2 separate regions of the Homo sapiens genome follow, and region 1 is linked to region 2. The links come from fine-mapping of genetic effects on gene expression. A gene starts in region 2. The other region holds a variant in brackets. All regions are shown on one strand. Distances are between the middles of the regions. Region 1 holds the start of LOC105370640 (a long non-coding RNA gene). Region 2 holds the start of SYNE3-AS1 (SYNE3 antisense RNA 1).

Evidence for each region.
Region 1: its variant is fine-mapped to the expression of SYNE3-AS1 in prefrontal cortex (BrainSeq, PIP 0.95).

Annotation. Positions count from the first base shown.
Region 1 is chr14:95,396,977-95,406,262 of GRCh38, reverse strand. It overlaps LOC105370640 (a long non-coding RNA gene), which reads left to right and starts at 1,157. Exons shown (of 3, transcript XR_944174.3): 1 at 1,157-1,321; 2 at 7,431-7,665. The variant A/CA (reference allele first, on the strand shown) is at 5,616.
Region 2 is chr14:95,511,081-95,520,366 of GRCh38, reverse strand. SYNE3-AS1 (SYNE3 antisense RNA 1) reads right to left here and starts at 4,247. Exons shown (of 2, transcript NR_188030.1): 1 at 4,147-4,247; 2 at 2,456-3,363. It overlaps SYNE3 (spectrin repeat containing nuclear envelope family member 3), which reads left to right and starts at 3,717. Exons shown (of 18, transcript NM_152592.6): 1 at 3,717-3,771. RefSeq lists an enhancer at 1,888-2,037 and silencers at 3,462-4,271, 4,021-4,315.

The DNA.
Region 1 (9,286 bases), 110 kb after region 2:
ATGAGACTTTGAACTGTTGGTGCAAAAGTTGTTACAGGCTGGAAGCGGTGGCTCATGCTTGTAATCCCAGCACTTTGGGAGGTTGAGGTGGGCAAATCATTTGAGGTCAAGAGTTCAAGACTAGCCTGACCAATATGGTGAAACCCTGCCTCTACTAAAAATGCAAAAAAAAAAAAAAATAGTCAGGTGTGGCAGTGCACACCTGTCGTCCCAGCTACTTGAGAAGCTGAGGCAGGAGAATCGCTTGAACCTGGGAGGTGGAGGTTGCAGTGAGCCAAGATCACGCCACTGCACTCCAGCCTGGGCGACAGAGTGAGACTCCATTTCAAAAATAATAATAATAATTATGGTTTTTGCCATCAAAAGTAATAGATTTGGATCTGGTTCAGTGGTGCATGCCCTAGAGTTAAATGTCATTCAAATGAGTCTCTGAGTTTTTGACTTGGTGAAGCAGTTCTGCAGAGAAAGGGCAAAGGGTGGGAAAGTCTGTTCTTTTAGGAAGGAGGAGCGGTCCTTGGTTTTTCCATCTGCCTTGTTTAGGGCAGATGAAGCCAGGTTGCCAGCACTCCTATAGAGGACCCTGCAAATGGAAGAATCACTTTCCACTATCAGGCCGCAGCAAGACCACTGCTGGCTACAAGGAGTTTACAACTGAGGGAGGTGATTTCACCCAGCATATCGGGATCCATTGTCTAAAGTCTTAGAGTGGTGCTAAGTACCCTCACAGAAACACTTGTGAGTCTTGTGGCCCCGAATAACAAGAACCCTTACCTTCTAAGTAGTTGTCCAAAAAATAAAGCAGCATGCTTTTTGAAGAAAGACAGAACTCTGTCCACGGGGATGCTCTGCCTTTTAGGTCTATATGGAATTGATCACGGCATAGCCCTGTTTAGCTGATCTGAAGAAGCCTTAATCCGTATAACATAAAGGTATGCCACGTGTCATTTATGTTAACTAAACGTGGTATACATGTTTATTTCCACAGCAGAAGCATCAAACCTGGGGTCAGGAACTTCAGGGTTAAAACGCTGTTTCAGTGAGAAAACTAGATTTACCCTTCCTTGTTTTAATTTAGCACCTTTTGTGGGAACCCAGCCCACTGTGAGAGTAGCATTAAACACACACGGTTTCTAAATCTTTACTGAGTTCTCTAGTGTTTCTGGCTGGACGACTCATTCATTTTTATGACCGTGTGATTTTTTTCACAACCAGGCGTCCCATGGAAATAATTATCTTACCTCAGTTTTCATCCACGGCTTCCAAGCCCAACCATGACATGGTTAATTGGAGAGATCCATCACCTTCTCGTGGAATCCTCTTGGTGAGAATGTTACTCAGCTACTTGGCCCTGCCAGCCTCCTCTGTCACTGCCTCTGCAGCCCTGGCTCTCCGTCCTGCTACCTTTCATTATGCTGCAAAAGGAGAGACCCCAACTTGCTCAGGGCTTCCGGGCTGGAATTCCGTATTGCAGTTGCATACTGGCGTGCATCCTGGTCCCTGCTCCCCGCTCCAGCTTGGTTTTCACTGTGGCCTGCTGCTGCTAATTTCTAATAGGAGGGCTCCTCTACCAATGGACAGCGAGGGAAATTGCTCTAAATTGTTCTGAGACATGGCCTGTCTCATGCTATCTGTTTCCTCTCTTTGGGCTTGTGCAAATCACTGAGGCCCTTTTCCTTTGGAATGAGGTGATGGGATAACAAAAAGTAAAAAGCAACAAACCACAATGCTGAATGCAATGTGGAATCCTGCATTGCATCCTGGAACAGTGAACAGGCATTAGTGGAAAGGCCAATGATACACAGATCAAGTTAGCAGTTTCATTAACGCTATTGCACTGGTGTTAATTTCTTGGTGTTGACAAATTCCCCATGGACATGTAAGATGTTACCGTTAGAGGAGACTGGGTGTGTTTGTCTATTTTTGTGTAGCTATAAAGAAATACCTGGAGCTGGATATTTATAAAGAAAGGAGGTTTAATTGGTTCACAGTTCTGCAGGCTGAACGGGAAACATGGTGCTGGCATCCACTTCTGGTGAGGTTCTAAGGAAGCCTACAATCATGGCAGAAGGTGACAGGGAGCCAGCATGTCATATGGCCAGAGTAGGATCAAGAGAGAGAGGGAGAAAAGTACCACACTCTGTTAAACAACCCGATCTCTGTGAGCAAGCATTCACTTATCACCAGGGGGATGATGGCGCTAAGCCACTCATGAGCAATCTCCCCCGTGATCCAATACCTCCCACCAGGCCCCACCTCCAGCACTGGGGATTCCATGAAATCTGGAAGGACAAACATCCAGAGTGTATCACTGGGTGAAGGTTATGGGAACTTTGTGCTGTTTTTGCACCTTTTCTAAATGATTCCAAATAAAAATTTTATTTATTTTTTTTTGAGACGGAGTCTCACTCTGTCGCCCAGGCTGGAGTGCAATGGCGCCATCTCAGCTCACTGCAAGCTCCACCTCCCGGGTTCACTCCGTTCTCCTGCCTCAGCCTCCTGAGTAGCTGGGACTACAGGCGCCCGCCACCACACCCAGCTAATTTTTTGTATTTTTAGTAGAGACGGGGTTTTACCATGTTAGCCAGGATGGTCTCGATCTCCTGACCTCGTGATCCACCCGCCTTGGCCTCCCAAAGTGCTGGGATTACAGGCGTAAGCCACTGCGCCTGGCCAAAAATTTTATTTATTGTTTGTTCCATTTTATTTCATTTCTATTTTCATTAGAATGAAATGAATAGAATCTTATCAATAATCTGTTTTGCCAATCTAGTAAATGAAAAGATCTGAATTTTTAAAAGCATTGAACATTTCAAAAACTGATTTTGCAGTTTTTAATGATATCTTTATAATCAAGAAATAGTAAAAAGTTACATGCTAAATAATGGCATGTTCCAAAACAGATTAGTCTTCCCTTCCAAGTGGCAAATTCAGCAGTATTTAGGACAAGCACTGTATGATTTGAACACTAGAAAAATGTCTATTTCCTTCTTTTTTCATCAGCTTACATATTTTCTTTCTTTCCACACTTAAAATTCTTTTCTTTTAATGGACAAATAGTAATGTTATATATTCATGGGGTACACAGTGATGTTTTGATACATATAATGTAAGTGATCAGATCAGGGTAATTAGCATATCCAGCATCTCAAACATTTATCATTTCTTTGTTTTGGGAACATTCAGCATCCTTCTTCTAGCTATTTGAAACTATATACTGTTGTTAACTATAGTCAGCCTACAGTGGTGTAATATTCTAGAACTTATTTATCCTATCTAGCTGTAATTTGTATCATTTAACAAGTCTCTCCCTATGCTTCCTTCCTCCTACTCTCCCTAGCTTCTAGTATCCCATTTTACTTTTTACTTCTATGAGATCAACTTTTTTTAGCTATCACATATGAGTGAGAACATGTGGTGTTTAACTTTCTGTTCCTGGCTTATTTTGCTTAACATAATGTCCTCTAGTTCTATCCGTGTTGCCACGAATGACGAGATTTCTCTTTTTTTAATGGCTGAATGGTATTCCATTGTGTATATATCCCATATTTTTTACATCCATCTGTTGTTGGACACCTACGTTGATCCCATATCGTGGCTATTGTGAACAGTGCTGCAATAAACATGAAGGTGCAGATGTCTCTTCAATATAATGATTTCCTTTCCTTTGGATAAATTCCCAGTAGTAAGATCACTAAAAATTTTATTTTTAAAAATATGATTTTTTATGGCCCTGGAAAAAAAATGTGAAGTTTCTCTTTTGCTCTTAACTTACTCCCTTAAAAGTGACGGTGAAACTGTTCTAGGAACAGGCTTGGAATCATCCTGATCAGTGTTTGGCTCCAAGCAACCAAATCTGCAAGGCATTGGACCTTAACAAAGTTCTCCCATCTTCTGGAATACTTATCTCAAAGGAATGTGGTTGGGCGGATTAAATGGGATAGTATGTGTAAAGGGCTTTCACAGTGCTCAGCCCATAGGACACACTCCATAACTGGAAGCTATTTATACCACCCCATCCCAAATGCCTTCCTGGGTCATGCTAGGCAGGTTCTGAAGAAGTATCTTCTTTTACATTCTCTAGGATGCATACTCTGACCCCAAAGTACTGCCCTGCAACTACTGCCAGGAGTCCGGGATCTCCCTTATGGGCTTACAAGTGTCCTGAAGATGCTTGTTAAGGGGAGAGTCTAGAATCAGTCAGCAGTCAGTTGCAAAAAACAGAATCCACTCTAACTAGCTTAAGGAGAAAGGGATTTATGATGGGGTATAAAATGGCTCACAAAATTGTTGAAGAACAGACTCTAATCTGAGATTTCAGGAGGAGCTCAGCCTCAGGACCATGCTGCCTCTTTCATGGTGGAGAAAGTTGCTGCTGCTGCCCCGCAGGAGGCTGCCAGACAGGGAGAATACTGCAGCTGCGGACTAAAGGCCTCGCCTCCGTTGCACTGCAGCAAAGGGGTGCCCATGTCAAGCTGTCTCCTCATGCACCTCCCTCCCACACTCAGCATCATGAAGGAGAGTTGGAATTGGAAAAACCTGGTTCACATTTAGAACACAGCAGCAAAGGAGGCAGGGATATGCCATGTTATTTATTTTTTTAAAAAAATGATTTTTTTTTTAGAGACAGTCTCCCTATGTTGCCCAGGCTGATCTCGAACTCCTATCTCGGCCTCCCAAAGTGCTAGGATTCCAGATGTGAGCCACCACACTCGGCCAATGCCATTTTAGCTTTACCCTTCTGCATTATGGGAAAACATCTTGCAAGGAGTTTAATGGGCAATTAATAAGCAAATCTACAGTATCCCCCACGGCCCATGCCTCTGGATACTTCATGTCCCGGTGTACCCCAATTTCCATATTTAAACTTCCAAGCAAAAACAGCAGTGGAAACAATAGCTCCCATATTCCACCTAATGCACCTACCCCCGTATGAGCAAGTGAGTGCTTAGCAAAACGTCCCATTTATCAATATATCCATTTCTGTGCTCTGTTAGTTTTCCTCTGGTTCATTCACAATTTTACTTGATGTCCTGAAGTCTGTGAACTAAATTATGAGGTTAGCTGTCGCATCCCTGCCACCAGGCCTGCTTGTTCATGGGCAACTGAACTGACATCCAGTGATGTCTGGACACCTGATTATCAAGAGCCTTCTCTCCACAGATGGACTTTTGATGATCATTCAAACAGTACATACATATCGTTATACCCAAGATCTCGCTGAAAGGGCTACCCATATATATTTTCCTCAAACTTCCATGTTATCAATCCCCATTCTTGTCCTTTTCGAGCCCTTGACCATCCTTAAGGAAAGAATCAAGTAAAGAATATTTAAATAAAAAATATCACTGAGCTCTTTTTTTTTTTTTAATTTTTTTTGAGATGGAGTCTCACTCTGTTGCCCAGGCTGGAGTGCAGTGGCGCGATCTCGGCTCACTGCAACCTCCACCTCCCAGGTTAAAGCGCTTCTTCTGCTTCAGCCTCCCGAGTAGCTGGGAACTACAGGCGGGTGCCACCACACCCAACTAATTTTTGTATTTTTAGTAGAGACACGGTTTCACCATATTGGCCAGGCTGGTCTCGAACTCCTGACCTTGTGATCCACCCCCCACCCCCCC[A/CA]CACCCGGCCTCCCAAAGTGTTGGGATTACAGGTGTGAGCCACCTCACCTGGACTATTAAGCTCTTATTATACATCAAGAATAAATAAAATGGTGAACAAAACAGAAACCCCCAAACCCTGCCTTCCTGGAGCTTACTCTCTGGTGCTGGGTACTGCCCATTCTTCTGTGTAGATCTGTACTCTCAGTCATTTCTCCTTCTAGGCAAAATGAACTACTAAATACACATTTCAAAGACAGTGGGGGACGTTCCTTCCCCATTGTCTTTCATCAGCAGCCTTCACGGGGGCTGTAATCCTATAGCATTATACATCTGACTAGTTGCATTATATCAGGCAAGGTCAACTAGGCTCAAATACTTTTTTTTTTTTTTTTTGGAGACAGAGTCTCACTCTGTCACCCAGGCTGGAGTGCAGTGGTGCGATCTCAGCTCACTGCAACCTCCGCCTCCCAAGTTCAAGCGATTCTCCTGCCTCAGCCTCCAAAGTAGCTGGGACTACGGGCACCTGCCACCACGCCCGGCTAATATTTTGAATTTTTAGTAGAGATGGGGTTTCGCCACGTTGGCCAGGCTGGTCTTGAACTCCTGACCTCAAGTGATCCGCCTGCTTGGCCTCCCAAAGTGCTGGGGTTACAGGTGTGAGTCACCATGCCTGGGCTCAAATTCTTTATTCTGATGCCAAGTGAAGCTGTGAATGCCAAGTGGATGCCAAGTGAAGCTGTGGGGTGGGCTGAGGGTTAGGGGTTTTGCAGCAGAAGTAGTCATCCTGGGGGCTGTGGACCATTGGTAAGGCCTGCATGTTTATTTCCCCCAACTCCCAATTCATACGTTGAAATGCTAACCCGCAAGGTGATGGTATTAGGAGGTGAGGCCTCTGGAGGGTGATTAGGTCATGATGGTGGAGCTGTCATGCATGGGATTATTAAAATGACCCCAGAGGGAGAGCTTGCCCCTTCAACCATGTGAGGACACAGCAAGAAGGCACCATCTATGAACCAGGAAACGTGCCCTCACCAGACACCGAAACTGCTTGTGCCTTGATCTTTGACTTCCCAGCCTCCAGAACATGAGAAATAAATTTCTGTTGTCTATCAGCCACCTAGGCTATGATATTTTGTTATAACAGCCCAAATGGACTAAAACACCCACATACACATGCAGCTCACAAAATGACCAAATAAGACACTGGGCAAAGATTTCAGGCCTGGGCATTCATTCAGCAAGTGGACCATGGCACTGAGGACAGGCAGTGTGAGGTTACCACCCATGAGAAAACTGGACAAGCATCTGCCGAGGTCCCTCCAGCCTACAGGGCTCCTGCTCCCCTGAGCACTGCTCCTGCTATGGAGTTCTTCTCCGTTGCCTCATTTTGGACCATCCTGGAAAATGGACCCTCTCTCTGACCACAGTCTGTGATTGAGCGCCATACACCTGGGATTCCAACCCCCAATCTCTGCAGGCCAGTTTGTGACCTCAGCTCCGCACTTCTCACACAACACCGCCATGGCTCTTTGTTTGCTGCCTGTTCTGTGCTCTCGGCTGCTGGCACTGACCTTCTTGTGTTTGCTCCTGTTTGGGGTTTCGTAAGTTCAGATTTGTCTACTTGTTTGTTTTGATTCTCAGCGCCTCGGACAGGAGTAGACCTGTGGGTCAAATCTAGCTGCCACTAGTTTTCACACAGTTCAAGGAGTAAGAATGGTTTTTAAATTTTTAAGTGGGTTACATTTTACATGGTTATGTAAGTACCAACAAAATAGCTTTAATTTTGCCTCTTGCGCTACAAAGTCCTAAAATATTTACTCTGGTCCTTCACAGAAGCGTTTGTCAACTCATGCTCAAGGACATCGCTCGTGCAGTTTCCCACCTGATTAATCCATGTAGCCAAGCTGTCCATCCCCAAATCCCAGCAAGGTCCTTCCCTATGACCAGCTCCCCAGCAGGCTGGCTGTGACCTCCCTGAAGGGGTCCAGGGAGAAAGCACACTGGCCGGGGAGGCAGGAGAAATCGGTTCCAGCCTCGCACTCATCACCAACTTGCTTTGTGACTTTTGGTAAGTCCCATTCCCTCTCTGTACCTCAGATCCCTCTCTGTCAAACGGGGAGTTTCGATGTGAATCACCTTGGAAATCTCTCACAGCACTGCCAGTCCTCGCCAAACCATTGTTCTCCATAACCATGAGGAACATGGGAGAGAACAAGGCATGGGACTGTCCCAGGGACCCCAGGATCGAGCCCACGATCAATTCTTCATCCTAGGGCATGGGTGACAGGTCACGCGGGCACACAGACACACATGCTATACACTGTAGACACGTGCACGCACCTGAGTGCCTATGCACACACACCCCTTATTCATGCACCACACACACAGAGGCACACATAGACACAGACACACTCCACACACACACACCTACACATACACCACATAACTGTGTGCAAGTACACGCACCACACACAACCATGCACCACACACAGAGGCACACACGGACACGGACACACTCCATACACACACACACACACACGTACACATACACTACACACCTGTGTGCAAGTACATGCACCACAAACAACCATGCACCACACACAACCATGCACCACACAGAGGCACATATAGACCTAGACACACTCCATACATACACACACTTGCACACATACAATCACACACACCATGCATACACACACATGCCACACAGACAAAACACACACCACACACAGATATATGCACACATGCCAAACACACCCACCACACCACATACAGGCATACACACATGGATGCACCACATACAGACACACACATACACATCATAGACACATGCACATGCTTGCACATACCCCCCACCTGCATACATGTGTGTACACACCCCCCCACACACCAAACACACACAGATGCACACATACACTACACATACAGATACACTACATACCACACACAGACACCACAGAGGCACATATGGATACAGATAGAGACAGTCAACATACACAATTGCCAGACATGCAAGCCATATACACAGGTGCGCACCCACACCACACACACAGAGACCTACATAGACACAGGCACATGGTGCTCTGGGCAAAGTGTTGTGACCGTGTCTCACGGCTTGTCAGGTTGGGAGCCGTAGCAGAGCTCTGGGGGTACATCCCTGGGGGATCCCTCCTCGACTCTGGTCTGATTAAGTCAGCTCTGCAGAAACCAGAAAATTAAATTTGGGGCCATGTCTGTCTTCCGGATATGGTGCATAATTTCAGGATTACTCTGGGTAAAGAAAAGAGAAAGGGCTCTTTTCTTTTTTTAGGGTTTGGAAAGGAAAACATGGTTGTGTGGGCTAACGTGTATTGCTGGGCGAGGTCTTCAGGGGTATGGTTCGGAGCCATGAGGGAGGCGTCTGTGCAAGCAGCAAGCCTTCCTTTTTGGGGCCAGGTAGGGGGTCGGTAATGCAGAGGTTATAAAGAAAGAGATTGCATTTGATTAATGAAATATTTTCTTACAATCATGTTTTTGCTGAAATGCATGTTCAACCCTGACCAAAGGCCAGGGAAGCCAAATGCAAAACATACAGTGTGCGGTTGCCAGAATATCTCCCAAGCTACATTTTAATATATGTCAAAATTCAAATTTACCCTGGAGTCAAGGAAGTCAGAGAGGGAGACCTTTGCCTTATGGGTACTGCATAC
Region 2 (9,286 bases):
CACCCTTAATGTGAGCTTTTCATCCGTATTAAGCTGAAAGCACTTATGTACTTCACCACTAAGTGGGAAGCCAGGCTAGAGATGGAGAGATGGGAATGTAAATGTTCTGAACAGCAATTCCTATCCTGGAACCCTGGGCAATGCCCCTCGTCCCTACTCTCTTGCCTCAGTTTACCCATGAGGTGTTTTATTAGCCAGAAAAGCCATTGCAGCTTTTGTTGTAATCTATCTGTGGAGACTGAACACACACACACAAACAACTGAAAAAATCATGCTTACAAAATGAGGATTGTGCAGATTGCCACTGAAGCTGGCTAACCAACAGCAAATGTGAAACAGACCCAGATAATTTCCCCAGGCTTATTAAATTGATTCCTGCTTCCCCATGAGTGGTGGTGGAGATGCTGGCTGCAGGGAAGGGACAGAGGGAAAGAGTGGTAAAAACTTCGCTTTTTGGAGGACATTTGGTACGTTGCACAAACAGCCCGCGCTGCCAAGTGAGTCAGAACTTCCGAACAGCATAATTTTAGTGCCCTTCTTGTGGTTCCCTCTCTGGGCTGCTTCTGAAAGGAAGGTCTCAGGGCGGGGTTTCCTGTGTTCAATTCCAGAGATGACAAAGGGGCTCTTCCCCCAATCCTTTGCCAGATTTTTTTTTCCAGATGGGTTTTCATGTCCACCCCCTTATGTAGCTGCAGGTAATGCTGAAGACGAAGGTATTGTGGACTTCCTAGTTGTAAACTGCCCCATCCCTTCGCATTGCTTACTCAACTTTTGTTTTCCTTCCATGTGGACTACTTTGGAGAGAAAAAGATTGGCATCAAATAAAAAATAGGGTTCTGTTTTTGATGTGATGTTTATGTCAGGCTTAAGAAAAGTAATGGATGGCCGGGCATGGTGGCTCACACCTGTAATTCCAGCACTTTGGGAGGCCAAGCAGGCAGATATCTTGAGGTCAGGAGTTCGAGACCAGCCTGGCCAACATGGTGAAATGCTGTCGCTACTAAAAATACAAAAAATTAGCTGGGTGTGGTGGTGTGTGCCTGTAGACCCAGCTATTCAAGTGGCCGAGGCACAAGAGTTGCTTGAATCTGAGAGGAGGTTGCAGTGAGTCAAGATTGCACCACTGCACTCCAACCTGGGTGACAGAGCGAGACTCTAAGAAAAGCAATGGAATGGGAGAGTATTCTGAAAAGCAGCAAGCCCTGTAAAGCCCAAGATAATAACAATCACATTGATAATAACAAAACTATCTGCACAGTATTTTGTACTTTATAAAATATGTTTATCACATGTGTTTTCACCTATGAAAAATTATTGCTATCCCCATCTAACAGATGAGAAAAACCAATGTTGTAAGAGGTCACATTCAGTGTAAGATTAGACTGTATGTGCACACTGTATGTGTAACAGAATCTTACAGTGTAAGATTCACTCAGCTAAATAAGTAGCAAAGCTGGGCCTGGAAAGTGAATATCTCCACTGCTCTGAACTGGTGCTCTGCACTGCACCGGCAGCAGGAGGGACAGTTCATCTCTGTGCACCATGGTCCCCTGACACAGAATTATTACACCCTGACCTCCTTGGAGGTAGTAGTCTATGCCTCATTCTTCTTCATATTCCCAGAGACTAGCACATAGTAGATACTCAGGAATGTTTGACGAAAGACTGAATAGCTGTATGGCAGAAACTGTAGCAATCATACCATTCCCAGAACCATAACATAACAGCTCGCCTGAGTTGGGTGCTCAAATACCAGGCACAAAACCATACAAGATAAGCTCCTATTATTAGATCTATTCAACAGAAAAGGAAACCAAGTATGAGTAATCAGCTGAAAGTTGCAAATTGGGCACTTTGGCACTAGAGCCTGAGCTCCTAACTGTACCCAACCATCTCTTCCTGCAGGACATTGAGTTACAGTGGCCAGCTCCACCCTTGGAGCAGCCTGGGGGAGCCATCTCTCTCCTTGTGCAAGTCACCTGCCCTCTTTGTGTCTTGGTTTCCCTTGTCAGGCAAAACTCATTAAACTTTTCCTAACTACCTGGAGGATGTTTGCAGAGATTTAATGAGGAGACACATTTGAAAGCATTCTGAAAAGCAAAAAGCGCGATCCAGATGCAGGCATTATAATCATTGTTACTCGCTGCCTGCACCTGCAGTTTGACTGTGGCAACCTCAAGGCCTTCGGCAGCACTTCTAATTGAGCCACAGTGATAATAACACATATAATAGCATACTTGGAACCAGTCAGTCGCAGGGAGATGGGAGGGGCCCTGTGTATATCTTCAGCAACGCTGTGAATAATTACAGCTTAATAAATGGGATCTAACTAAGAGGTGTGGGTCTACCTCAGAGTGAATCCTGGGTTTTGGCTAATTCTTCTACCTCCCTCTCAATTTGGAAAAGACATACACACACACACACACACACACACACACACACACACACCGTTAACTATCTTGTCCTGCTTTACAATTTAATCTCTTAGGATACTGACTTTTACACGGATCTGTTCTACAAACATCTGCCATCCCTGCTAAGAAACAAAAAAGGAAAACAGCATCCCGGAAGCCCTGGATTTGGGCCAGTTACTAACCCCGCATCTGTAAAATCGCTAGCCGCACCTAAACTGTGATGACTGGAGTTCACATAAAACCTAGTTTTACAACTTGTATCCTTCATTAGTAGCGCTCATCTGATCCAGAGGCGGTGAAGCCAATCATGCAACCATGTAATTACTCGGAAAAAGATAAGGGTTGGGGCCCAGGACTGTTCAAAGCTGGGCTGGATGCACAGGAAGGCCAGTGACTGCTGACCTGGGAGGAGAGCGCCAGGGTGCGAAGGCTTCCAGCCATCAAGCAGTAGGAGTTTGGCAGAAGGCTGTGGAGCAAACGCCGGGCCAAGGCAACTTCATGTGCACAGGCACAGAGGCAGATACAGTTTAGACATTCTGGGACAAGGTTAAAGGGTTGGCGTGGCTGGAGCAGGGGTTGGGAGAGTGGGAGGATGTTTCTGCTGGTGGGGAGGGAGAGGTGAGGCGCATTCTGAGGCCTTGGGTTTGTTGGGGGTTCACATTATGCCTGGGGATTCACATCCCTTGTGACTCCTGGACTGTGGGCCCGGACTGTGGGGGTGGGAGAGGACGGGCAGGGTGCCACTACCCCCCACCCCGCCCTTTCTCCCCGCGCGAGGCTGGCTGATGAGTGTCATTTTCTTCTTGGATTTCGCGCCTACGGGCGGTGTGCCCCTTCCAAGGCCCCCACCTCCGCTCTGTGAGGGCAAGATCTGCCGGTGTCCTAATCCCTTTTCCATGTCTGGGCGCACAGATCCAACTTTCCCGGAGAGGCAGCTCCGCGCCATCCCCTAGGATGAGAAGAGGGTGGGTGGCTGTGTGTGTGTCGGGGAGACAGACAGGGGCCAGGGCTCCGGGCTGCTTTCCAGGCAAGCGTGGACAGGACCCCCCCCTTAACCCCCGCCCCGGGTCCGCGACAGGGAGCGGTGAGGCTTTTCTTCGGCCCTGGTCCCCGGGGCCACGCAGGATGTCCGCCGGGCTGGGGTTGCGCACCCGGGGCCTCCGCTGAGCGCGTGCGGAGAGGGGCGCGGCCTCTCCCGCGGGGCCACCGGGCGGGTCCCGGCGGGGGCGGGGGTACTCGCGGTGTCCGGGCCCGCCCCAGCCCTGCCCCGCCCCGGAGCCGCCCGGGACGCAGGGAGGAGGGAAGGAGGCTCGGCCCCAGCTACCCGCGGCGCCGCGCTCCTCCACGCTCCGGGAGGGTAAGTGGCACGGGGCCGGGAGGCCAGGCCTGGGGCCGGGGGCCGGGGGCCGGGGGCCGGGCGGGTGGGGTCCTCAGCCCCTGGCCCAGCTCTGACACAGCCCCGGGAATCGGGGGCGCCGAAAGTCTGGGGGACCTGGGGAGGCGCGCCCGGCGCGGGGGCGGGGGCCCCGGCGTGACAGCTGCGGGCGGGCGGGTATTTTTAGTTTAAATCCAACCGTTCTGTGCTGGCTGCGAAATTCCCGAGCCTTTCCTTTCAACCCCGGGGAGCTTCGGCCGGCCCACAAGAAAAAGCCCTAAAGCCCCGGGCAGCGCGCCCCAGCGGGCCGGGTGCCTCCTCGGGGCTTCCCTCTGCCTCCCCTAGGGGCGGGCTGACCTGTCACCAAGGCTTGCGCGCGGCGGGGGCCCAATCCGCTCCTGGCGACCGCGAGCGCGCTCAGTAGTGCCTGGGAGAGCAGAGCAGGCGGCGAAGAGGGGAAGTCCAACCCCGAATGCTCAGTTTCGTTCAGACGCCTTTTGGCTATGCAAACTTGGCAAGCAGCTCAACCTCTCTGAGCCTCATTCCCACATTTCTAAAGGGGAGGGCAGTGAGGCCAGAGATGGCTTGCAGGGCCTGAGAGAGCCTCAGATGGATGTTGACTTCCCCTGGGGTCTTGGGATCTTGACCCCAAACAGCAGACCCATTGATGTGGCCCATTGGTCAACCCGGGAGCAGTGTCCTACACCGCCCAGCTGACCTCTGCTTCAAAACTGGAAGCCAGGGGCCTCCAGCCTGGGCGGGGTGATAATGAATATTTTCAGTTAACCACTTTGGCCCTGAAGCTCCAACCCTGGGCTTTCCTGGGACTCTCCCAGGTTCCTGGTCACCCCTTTCAACTCTGAAGGGTCACCCTTATCCCTGCACTGGGTGGGGGGGCTTTCTACAGCCAAGGGCTGCTAGTGGGATAGCTTGATGTGTCTTGGGGGCATGCCCCATCCCACATGAATGAGGGCATGAGGAGAATGGACCGTCCTCCCAGAAAGGAGAGCATGTCATAAAATCACTGCCATTCTGAGCTTGGCAGGACAGCGTCCTTCATCCACCAAGAGAAGCAGAAACAGGCCCAGAGAGGGGGAGTGATTTGCCCAGAGCCACACTGCCTGGCTCTCTTGAAGGGCCTGGGCTTGCCGCCTGCACTTCCAGGGCAGCCAACAGCCCATAGGAGTCAGGAGCTGGGAGGTGGGAGGGGCATATCAGTGCCAACGAGCTGTTTTGCTCAGTTTCCTGTCACTGTGCCCCAGCGGGATGCTCCAGCACATGTGGGTCTGCACATTCCTCAGGCCGGACGGTGCTCGGCAGGCTGACAGCCACAGCTGTGCCAAGCCTGCTGGCCCCAGGCGTTGTTTTCAACCAGAGAGGCCCCTCTGGGGGTGGCTGAGCGGGAAGTGGGCTGGGATGTCTTATTTCTGGAACTCGTGTCTTGCTGGGGGTCCTGAGAAGAAGGCCTGAGGATGTGTTGGTGGCACAGAGGGAAGTGGTGAGAATCCAGGCTCAGGTTTCTGCCTCCAGGTACAGTCTGGCACCTGGCTCCCTGCAGGTACACTTCAGAGTGAGTTGGAGTCCTTTCTGTCTGTCTCCATGGGAACAAGGCTCCTGCTCGGGTGCTTTGCATGCTCTCCAGCAGCCATGGACCTGGCCATGCCTGGGCAGCCCCTTTGCCTTGTGATGCAGCCTGGAGCGGGCTGCCGGGGGGCCCTGGCTTGGCGGCCCCGGGAGGCAAGACTGGGCAGGCCCAGCTCAACGTCAAAAGCACCCTGGAGCCTTTGGGAACCCACTGGGCAGCTAGGCTTCCCGCATTGTCCAGCTGTTAGGAATGGGGCAGTCAAGTTGGATTGCCTGAGTCCAGTCCTGCCTTAGCCCGTTCCTGGCTGTGTAGCCTTGGGAAAGTTGCTTCACCTTTCAGAGCTTCAGCGTCCTTCCCCGTGGAAAGGGGCTAACCATAGCACGGCAGGTGTTGCCTCGCAGGGCCTCATGAGCACTAAACGAGCTTTGCCCTGATCAGCATTTTGTATGGTGTCAGACACAGCACATGTGAGAAGGTGTCACAGTTTGAGGCGAAGGGGCCTCGTCGGGATACCTGGGTTCCCCTCTGCTCTGCCTCTGCCCCTCTTCTCCCTGCCTTGATTTCCCCTTGTCTGTCAATGGTGGGTAGTCCTGGCTCACCCCCCTCATGGTCCTCCCAGCACTGAAAGCTGGCCCTTGGCCCCAGGGAGGGCAGGAGGCTCTTGACCCCAAACAGCTGACCCATTGATGTGGCCCATTGGTCAACCCAGGAGCAGTGTCCTACACCGCCTAGCTGACCTCTGCTTCAAAACTGGAAGCCAGGGGACTCCAGCCTGGGCGGGGTGATAATGAATATTTTCAGTTAACCACTTTGGCCCTGAAGCTCCAACCCTGGGCTGCCCTGGGACTCTTTCCCAGGTTCCTGGTCACCCCTTTCAACTCTGAAGGGTTCTAGAGAAGCCTACAGAGGGACTCAAATGTGTTCGTGGGGTCTTCCAAAGCTCTTCCTGCCTCTCACCTCCTAGGATCTGGTAGTAGGCAAGGCTGTCATTGCTTGCCCATTTACAGATGAGAAGGCTGATATCCAGCGGCTGGATGTGGTACAGCCAGGATTAGAACTAAGGGCTTTTGACCTGATGCTCTTCCTGGCACCACATGGCCTATCTTAGACAATCCAAGGACAAAGTTGTACGTTCATCACTGGGAAAACAGTACTGACCGGACAGGATGCTTGTCTTCATTAAGTCATCAGTACTTGCTGGAAAAGAATATGGATTCTGAATATATATATATATATATATATATATATATATATAATCTAAGCAGCCTGACTGGACCACAAAGATAGGAACCCAGGAGCAGCAGTGTTTCCTGACCCTCCCATCCTGAAAGGAACCTTTGCTTTAGGACTTAGGGATGATGTTCTGGGGCTGAGCAGCTAGGAAGCTAGGAAGTGGACGGGGGACAAGTTTGGGAAGCTGATGCCCTAATTTTGACCTCTTGAAATACTTCCCTTTTGGGGTTGCTGCGAAGATAATTGAGGTAACTGGGGATGATGCTTTAGCAGAATGCCCGGCATGGTGCGGGCACACCATAAATAGGACTGATGGTTTTTATTATTACTAACCCTCTACTATCATTGTAACACCAGAGTGCAGCCTGGATCTCTCGCCTGGGTTTCTAGGCTGCAGACGTGGTATAGAGAATCCTAGCATCTCCATGGAGAACTGCTAAGGCAATTATAAAAGCTCAAAACACAACCAAACTAAGCAATGAGTTGTTTAGTGACACATAGCTGAGAAGTAAAATGACGACAAAAAGCAAGAAGGTGATTAGCTTAAATAAAAGCCAAGCATTACCACGCGTGCTGAGGAAAGGTGAGAGAGGATCAGGAGAGTCGGGGGGGCAGTTACAAAGGAGATCACTTTGTAGTTACTGGCTAATTACATGTATGTTTTATACATGCCTTTATACGTAGATTCTATTTCACAAAGTTAAGCTGGTTTAAAAAAGAAAAAGGCAAGGGAATGATAATGCAAAATCAAGGTGATTATCTTTGGGGAGAAGTGGGTAATTGATCAGGGAGATGTCTGTTTCACTCTCAGTGGGATCCATTATGTTCTGTTTCTTCAGTCCAGTGGTAGGCTTGTGAGTGTTATTTTTTATTTATTTTATGTATGTATTTATTTATTTTTTGAGACAGAGTCTTGCTCTGTCACCCAGGCTGGAGTGCAGTGGCCTGATCTCGGATCACTGCAAGCTCCACCTGCCGGGTTTACGCCATTCTCCTGCCTCAGCCTCCCGAGTAGCTGGGACTACAGGCGCCCACCACCACGTCCGGCTAATTTTTTGTATTTTTTTTTTTAGTAGAGACGGGGTTTCATCGTGTTAGCCAGGATGGTCTTGATCTCCTGACCTCGTGATCTGCCCACCTCAGCCTCCCAAAGTGCTAGGATTACAGGCATGAGCCACCGTGCCCAGCCTATTTATTTATTTTTTTGAGACAGAGTCTCACTCTGTTGCCCAGGCTGGAGTGCAGTGGCACAATCTCAGCTCACAGCAACCTCCACCTCCCAGGTTCAAGCCATTGTTCTGCCTCAGCCTCCTGAGTAGCTGGGATTACAGGCATGTGCCACCATGCCTGGCTAAGGGCGTTATTTTTAAATATTTTTATGCTTCATTATTTACAAATAGGAGGCGCATATATTCCATTATATATATATAATCTTACATAATACAAATGAAATTAAAAGATCATGTGGAGCATTTTCAGATGCTTTCTTAGAAAATCTGCCTCTCTCCTCAGATTCCAATGTTAATCTGGCTGGATTTAAAAAATAAAGCAAAAAATTCTGTTGTATGACACATGATTTTATGTGTCATAAATCTTTATGTAGGAGACACGATCTTTAATGTAGGAGACATGATCTCTGTCTTCCCAAATCATACAACAAGTAAGATAATAATAACACTCTATGACCTCAGATGATCAACAGGATTTTTAAAGGTCCTGGCCTAATGATTTATGCTTCTGAATCATAAAATCCTGAAATATTTGAGCTGGAAGGAACCTCAGGTCACCTGGACCAATCTACTGGTTTTATAACAAAACGAAGTGTCCTGGCCGAGGTCACACACGTAGGGAATACACTTCTCTCCAGGCTGCCACAGCTGTGTGACTCTCATGCAGACACCACCCGACAGACAGACCAGTGAGAGTCTTGGGTCACAAGGCTCCTCCTTAGGGCACTCAGGGAGAGAGACGGGAAGTATACCTGAGATTAAACTGATAGGATCATTTTATTTATTTTATTTAATTTATTTATTTATTTATTTTTTGAGAAGGAGTCTTGCTCTGTCTCCCAGGCTGGAGTGCAGTGGTGTGATCTCAGCTCACCGTAACCTCTGCCTCCCGGGTTCAAGCAGTTCTCCTGCCCCAGCCTCCTGAGTAGCTGGGACTACAGTTGCATGCCACCATGCCCAGCTAATTTTATTATTATTATTTTTTTGTATTTTTAGTAGAGACAGGGTTTCACCTTGTTGGCCAGGATGGTCTCAATCTCCTGACCTCGTGATCCACCCACCTCGGTCTCCCAAAATGCTGGGATTACAGGCGTGAGTCACCGCGCCTGGCCCAGGATCATTTTATTTTTAAAAAGTCAGAAGAGAGTTACATTTTACGATGGAACCACACATTTCTAGAACTTACATGAACAGAAACATCCTCAAAGAAAACACAGAAGCAGTGCTTAGAATCTTCTTTCCTACAGGAAGTCCTCTTAGGAAAGAGCTCCTCTCACTCATCCTATTTTTTGCAGGCGTACTTGATTCCCAAAACAATTGAGTGCTGCAGTTATGGTTATTTCCATTTTCCAGTGGGGGAAGCAGGTTCAGAGAGGTTCAGTGCCTTGACCCAAATCACGCAGCAGGTGAAGATGGAGCAGGACTTTCATCCAGAGCGGGAGTGGAAAGG